2 linked regions of the Homo sapiens genome follow. The protein of the gene in region 2 interacts with the protein of the main gene of each other region in a pairwise test. Each region holds a gene or a part of one and is shown on either strand. Other genes may lie near its edges. The genes, in order: CTXN3 and BTN2A1.

What was found.
Region 1: the proteins of BTN2A1 (region 2) and CTXN3 interact in binary tests that used the Homo sapiens proteins (3 or more experiments, as listed by UniProt).

The regions. Positions count from the first base shown.
Region 1 is NC_000005.10:127,652,082-127,655,900, reverse strand, and holds part of CTXN3 (cortexin-3), read right to left. Parts: intron 3,649-3,819; exon of another isoform or gene 3,540-3,648; intron 2,852-3,539; exon of another isoform or gene 2,710-2,851; intron 2,585-2,709; 5' UTR 2,478-2,584; intron 1-2,477.
Region 2 is NC_000006.12:26,464,212-26,468,030, forward strand, and holds part of BTN2A1 (butyrophilin subfamily 2 member A1 isoform 1 precursor), read left to right. Parts: intron 1-973; coding exon 974-1,195; intron 1,196-1,741; coding exon 1,742-1,762; intron 1,763-1,850; coding exon 1,851-1,877; intron 1,878-3,507; coding exon of another isoform or gene 3,508-3,530; exon of another isoform or gene 3,531-3,736; coding exon 3,737-3,819.

The sequences.
Region 1 (3,819 bases), on a different chromosome or scaffold from region 2:
AGGAAGGAGTTACCAGTCGGGTAATGCATCATTTTTGCAGCTCTATCACTTTGAATTTTTTTAAAGGCTATAACAGTTGCAAAACTCATTTATAATTCATGTTTGTTTGGAAGTAAGATTGGGATAAAAATTTGACCGCATTTTAAAAAAATAAGCTCTTTAGGAATTTAGAGGATATTAATGCACTGGGTTTTGTTTTGGTTTGCTTGTTTCTAAGCACCCTCCTAGCCTTGGGTATTAATTCCTTGTGGGCCAGGAAGGGAGGGGCAGGAAGGGAGGCCAGAGCCTCCAATGCAGGTCTCCTCAGCACATCAGACCAGGGCCATCTGTGTCCACCAAAAATATTCAAACTATACTTAATCATATGAAATATAAAATTCTCCAAGGGCTGGGCCAAAGGAAAGCCCGCTGATGACAGAGGAGCAGATGCTGAGGCCATCCCTGACATACTCCTTGCTTTTTCATATCCTACTGAGGATCCTCTCACTTTGATTCCTGCTCTCCTTGCAGGATTATCAGAATCTCATTCTATGCCCTTTTTCCATCCAGCCCAAATGAGGCCAGAGTCCTGTTCTTTGTCCATTCTCAACAAAGCCGAGACAGGTATGCATTTTCAGAAAGTCTTTTTTTTTATTTTGAGACGGAGTTTCGCTCTTGTTGCCCAAGGTGGAGTGCAATGGTGCGATCTCAGCTCACCACAACCTCCGCCTCCCAGGTTCAAGTGATTCTCCTGCCTCAGCCTCCCTAGTAGCTGGGATTACAGGCATGCACCACCACGCCCAGCTAATTTTGTATTTTTAGTAGAGACGGGGTTTCTCCATGTTGGTCAGGCTGGTCTTGAACTCCTGACCTCAGGTGATCCACCCACCTCAGCCTCCCAAAGTGCTGGGATTACAGGCATGAGCCACCATGCCTGGCCATTTTCAGAAAGTTCTTTAGGAAAACACCATATAATCCAAAAAGGAAATATAAGAAGAGAAAAGACCATTAACTGTATAACTGATGTAAGGATTTCTGGATCTGTGAAATCCAAAAATTCAGGTAAGAACTAGATAGAGAACCTTTTGAGTCCTTGAGAATGACCTCCTCAGCACAAGCAGGCTGACTAGGACGGTGATACCTTGCTCAGTCCCTCCCTTCCCACCGGGGATCTCCACTTGATGAGCAACATTGTGACCCCAGGAGTAGTCTTCCCCAGCCTTCTCTTCCATACAGGGCAAATGCCAAATCCTTCTCTCCTGGATCAACTCTCATACTTTCTAGGCTTCACCCACAACTCAGGATTTACAGCGAGCAAACCATTCATTTGGGGGCTGCAGTGGTAGGCAACCATTCCAGAAATTCCAGCAAATAACTTATTCATCCTGATTCAGATTATCTGCCATATCTGCCTCTTCAGTCACCCTAGGAATGACTCTGGGACTCAGATTCTGCACGAGGATGCCAAGTATTAGAATGATTTTTAAAATCAGTTTTAATTTGAAGTTTTACCATCCTCTACTGATTAAAAGGCAAGGTACAAAGGAAAGGTTAACCCTCTTTGCATTGAGAAGCCTCCTAAAATATAAATATGTGTATACTCCAATGTCTTCATCACCAAACCTTTCCTGATATACCAAATTATGAGCAAATAGAGGTGAAAGAATTTTTAAAACTCTGTAGCACATTGGGAGTTGTAATCCTCTCCTCTCCCAGCACACTGTGGTGCCCAAGTTCCTATAAAAATAACTGCTTTTGGTCAAAGTATCAACGTCTCCTACTAAATTGCAATATTTTACCTAGGAAAGTGGCACATTAATGTGCTAGCAGGAATTTGTGAGGACCGTTCCCACCTGAAGGAGGGGAAAGTGTGGTAAGTAGAAAGGCGATTGAAGGAAGACCTAGCTGGGAATGAGGGACTCCTGGACAGGACAGGAAGACAGGCATGGTGGTGTGAACAGGGGGCCCACTGGAGAGCCCTAGGGGAGGGATGAGGGATGGTGGGTAGAGACAATCAGGAGGTGGTTGCTAAAGGGATAAAGAGATCCAGAAACCAATGCTGACTAATTCACAATTTTGCCCAGGACTGATTGAAATCCCTGGAAGAGTCTGCTTGATTTTAAACCTGCAATCAGCTAATCAATAATTTACCGATTTAGAAAGCTCCAACAGCATGTATAAGTTGAAGGAAGCATCAGCTATTATAAGGTGGAGAAAAAGAAATAAATGTAATCATTTTGCTACCACAATACAAAAATATCTCAAGACATGTAAATTTTTAAATGTCTGTCTCGCAGTAAAATGTCCCTTTTTGGTAAAAATGATTCTTAGAAAATGTGCAAGTTTGCTTTTAACTGAATAATGACATCTTTCTTTTAGATGACCAGGGAAATCTGTGCAAGTCTATTATTTCAAAGGATTTTGATACCACCATCAGAAGCCTTCATAATAACACATGGCAGCTATTTTAAGTATAAAGAAGGACCACAGTTACTCACAGCCATATTTTAATCCTGATAGGCTTTCCTCATCACGCAGTACATCTGTGTCTTCCCTTTGTCAGGTCCATTTGTGGGTGCTCAGGAAATAGAGTCTAATTTTAATACTGAAAAATTAAAGAAAACCTTAATTAAAAGATACCCTTTTCAAAAGTCATATAATACATTCCCTTGCTCGAGTCAAGCTCCCTTGTGATACTGACAAAAACAGAAGACACCCATAATTACTTACGAAGCCCAGCAGGCGTAGTCATTGCAGCCAGGGTCATTCACACTCTTAGTCACTTGCTTTAGTTTTAGTAATTTTCAAAGTGGCGTTCCTCATCCCTTGCCCATGCTTCCTACACACTGCATCTCGATTCATCTTTTTAAGCCCAGATCTCACCACTCTTCCCCTCAGAAAACCTTTGCACCCCAGTGTCCACAGCCCATTAACCCCCTTGTGGGCCTGATGCCCAGATGTTTTCCGGACCACAGATTAGGACCTATGCTGACAATGGAATTTTTAAGATCTGAGTTTTATTTTTATAAGTTTAGAAAGGAGTCAACACCAAATCACATTTAGTTCTCAGTAAAATGGCCAATGTGTTGATCAGAATAAACTTCCGTGTAACTGAGTCTGTGGACACCTGTGGAGAATGTCCTCATTTTGTCTGTTTTTCAGCTTGATCCAATACCTGCTGTGCTCTAACACCTCCAGGTTTCCTACCTCATAATACTTGCCTCCTCTCCTTCTTTCCATCTGTGGAGAGGAGGGGAGGCAAGCACTATGAGGCAAGCATCTTTCCTCTCCTTCTTTCCATCTCTCCCTCCCTTAGGGTTCACACCAAATACCCACTTCTCGGTGGGGCCTTCTTTGTTTCCCTTCACCAAGGATGGGGTGTTTTTTACTCCATCTCCAGAGACATCACCTGTACTCGGTGGCAGCACTGATTACAGTGCGAGTCTTGACAGTGTTTATCTCCTCCTTATTACACAATAAGCTCCTTGAGGAATTATTTGCTGTTCTGGGATCATTGCCTTTTTAAATATAAGTTAAATCAAATCTTCAACCCCTTACAGTCCAGGGAACTGAATTCAAAACCCGAGGTGCCAGCTAACTGATGCAGAGAGGAAAAACAAAAGCACAAGTCATCAAGCCGGACTGAGGTGCTGGACCATCACATTTGAAGTAAGTCTTGTTTGAAAGAAAGACAGCTAGTTCAAGTCACAATGACACTTTAAAACCCACAGATCTTGTAATTTGAAGAGCCATAAGTTATTTGGCTCATTAAATTTTCCTTGGCCTCCGTGTTGATGGGTGGAATCTGAAATATAAAAATCAGCCAGAAATTGAAAGTTA
Region 2 (3,819 bases):
GATTTTCCACAGGACAGAGCTGTGGAAATTCCCTATAGACACACACTCACAATTCATTCAACAAATGGTCAAGAAGCATATCGTATGTTCAAAACACTGTTCTACCAAGGGTAAATCATTGAACAAATTATATTAAGAACTCTTCCCTCAAAAAGTGATTAGTTAGCTAACCATATATTCTATCAGATGGTAATGAACATCTATAGGAAACATTAAGCAAGGAAGGAATAAAGAGGCAATGTGAGACATTGCAATTCTTAACAGAATGGTCAGGGAAGACTTCACTGTAAAGATGGGAATTGAGCCATCCCATCTGATGGCAAGGAGTCATCAGATGCTTAAGGACTGAACAACCCAGCTACAGGAAGAGCATATGCAAAGGGCCTGGGGAAGGAACATCTCTGGCAGTTTCCAGGACCCCCAGAAGGTGATGCTGGTGTGGCTGAAATGGAGTGAGTGCAGGAAGTGAAAGGAGATGAATTCACAGAGGCAATGAAAACACATTAAACATGGCATTGTAAGCCACAAACAGTCTTTGGTTTTTAGGGCGAGTGACGTGGAAAGCGTTGGAAGGTTTTGAGCTAAGAAGTATCATGATCACACTAGGGCTGGTCTGTTGAAAATAGACTACAGAAGGTAAGGGCAGAATAAGAAGGAGGGCACCGCAGTATTCCAGGCGTGAGTGATGGTAGCTTGAGGCAGGGTGGTGGCTGTGCCGACTCAGCATGACGGGTTAGCTTTATTCATCCTGGTCCTTCCCATGGTGACTGGTTTGCTACCTCTGGGCCTTGGCCCTGGAAGCCATTGAGGTGTCAGCCAGGTGTGAGCCAGCATCACTTTCTCCATCTGAGTTTTCTGAGGGAGAAAGCAGGAGAGCAGGTGGCTGAGGAGCTCTTCAAGTGTGCTCCTAGGGGCACTCTTACCCCAGATGTTCTGTTTCAAACTAAGTGGATATTTCTGGCTGCCTTTTCAGAATCCTTTATGCCCAGTGTGTCTCCCTGTGCAGTGGCCCTGCCTATCATTGTGGTTATTCTGATGATACCCATTGCCGTATGCATCTATTGGATCAACAAACTCCAAAAGGAAAAAAAGATTCTGTCAGGGGAAAAGGAGTTTGAACGGGAAACAAGAGAAATTGCTCTAAAGGAACTGGAGAAAGAACGTGTGCAAAAAGAGGAAGAACTTCAAGTAAAAGGTAAAAGAGGCTGAGTATGGTGGCTCATGGCTTGAATCCCAGCACTGTGGGAGGCTGAGGCAGGCAGATCACTTGAGCCCTGGAGTTCGAGACCAGCCTGGGCGATAAAGTGAGACCCTGTTTAATTAAAAAAAAAAAGAAAAGAAAAAGAGTAGAAGGACAGTTCACCACCATAGAAAGGACACAGCTCTCCCAGGTACCAGCATACAGAAGAGAGAGGAAATGCACAGCAGCAGCAAGGACTTGGAACTCTCATGTCCTTGGAATGAATCTCTCAGAGCTTTCATTCTTTCACTCTGCCCACCTTGCATTCATTCATCTGGCTACATAAAGTACTAAATGGTTGAGCAAAAGCAAGTGTAACAATGTGCTGGTACTACCCAGCCACCTGATCATACATAATTTCTGGTTTCTGACAGTGCCCTAGGCATGAGGGAAGGGAGATGTTGCTGTTCATAGAAAGGACGGTTCCTGCATTGTTTACTAAAAACCCAACTTCTTTTAGTTCTTCTGTCAAAGACATGATTTTCTTTGTTTGTTTTTCAGAGAAACTTCAAGAAGAATTGCGTAAGTTTAGCCTTTCCTTAACTACATGTACAATTTGAGTTCTGCTCAGCAACATCTCATGACATTCGTCTCTGTCTGTCCCTTGCAGGATGGAGAAGAACATTCTTACATGCTGGTGAGTGCCTCTGATGTTCCCTCAGATCTCAGCTTTCTCCACACTAGCCAGCTAACAGGACTCCTTAGAGGAGATGAGCAAGGGGCCCAGGGCAAGGTGGGGACAGCAGGGAACGGGGGTCAGTTCATCAACAGTGTCCCAGCAATGATGCATCATGTCTCTTCTGTCAGGGAATCCCAGCAGCTCTCAATCCACCCTATGGTTTACATCCCAGGATCCTTTATCTTTTGGAGTAATTTAATGCATGATTACCAGAGGTGTCCCATATATAGTAGCCTTCCTAAGAGTTACATTTCAGTAGTTGTTGTTCTTTGATCCTGGATGAATTTGAAAAAAGACAATGCTATCTTAGCAGCTTATATCCTGGGGATGGTGTAGACTGTGCCAAGTTGAAGACCCATGTAGGGAAGAGGCCAGGAGGGTCCCTAGTAAGCCTGACATAAGGGTGTACCAATAGGTGGCCAGAAATGCCTTTCTGCTCTTAAGAGAACACTAATACTTTGTGTATAGCCTGCCGTGGGAGGGATTTCAGGTGGGTGGGAGAGCACAGAACCCAATTGCCCACTCCCAGTGAGCACTTTTCATCTTATGATTCAGCCCCTCTGCCCATAAGCACCACAGAATCCAAGCTTTACCAGATACCATGGCACATGGACCTTTCCTCTTTAGGTGAATTTCAAAATTGCCACTGTCAACTTGGGACAAAATAGCAAATTGTCACAGCCAGACATATTAACTTGGGGAATGGAGGAAATCATTTTAACACAATAGAAAAGTAGACTGAATAAGTAAGAATAAATACAGATGGGAGAGGTCTGCAGAATGCCCGGAGTCTGGAGCATTTCTTGTACCTACAGAAGTGATATGTGAAGACATCAGACCCATGTTGTTGAAGCAAAACTGGATGGGAATAGTTACTCCCTACATTTGCCCACAGACCCCTCAGGCAACAGGTTTTCTTTTGGGGACATTTATTCTCCTTCTTCATTTTTTGAAGGGTGCCCTTGTTAGTCATTTAAGTCAGTTGTGATCTGGTAAAAGGAACACATAGGACCAATGAAGAGACCCTTTATCCTCCAGGACAGTGTGAAGGGAAAGACTCACCTTAGTTGATCCACCGGGGAGAGGAGGAGCAGGACATAAAGCCTTTGTGCTGGTTTAAGCCAAGTTGGAAAGTTTCTAAGTAAAGAAAATCCCAGAGATCATAGGTCTTCATTTGGGGTTTTGTTTTGTTTTGTTTTGAGATGATGTCTTGCTCTGTCACCCAGGCTGGAGTGCCATGGCACAATCTGGGCTCACTGCAACCTCTGCCTCCCGGGTTCAAGCAATTCTCGTGCCTCAGCCTCCTGAGTAGCTGGGATTACAGGTGTGCACCACCATGCCCGGCTAATTTTTGTATTTTTAGTAGAGATGGGGTTTCACCATGTTGTCCAGGCTGGTCTCGAACTCCTGACCTCAGGTGATCCACCTGCCTCAGCCTCCCAAAGTTCTGGGATTACAGGCGTGAGTCACCACGCCTGGCCAGAGATCATATGTCTTGGATAGAAAAGGGAACACATCTTAGAATGCTGAGAGAAAGTATAAGAATGATTGATTTTACTTCATTTGCTAAACTTTCCGGATTTCTTAGAGCTCCAATTCTTCTCAAACTGAGAGAACTGCTTCTGTCTCTGGAGAGACAGAAGTGCAGCTTCAGTAATTCTCAGTGTGTGAGCTGCCTAGGATCAGAGAGCCTTCATGGAAGTGGCCACTACGTGGGGATCCCTTCAGAGATATCTGAGACCTCTCTGGGGATCAGGAACCACACAATCCCCAGGGTTCCTGAGACCCCAGGCCTAAACCTGAGACTTCCTCTGCAGTTGATGTGGTCCTGGATCCAGACACCGCTCATCCCGATCTCTTCCTGTCAGAGGACCGGAGAAGTGTGAGAAGGTGCCCCTTC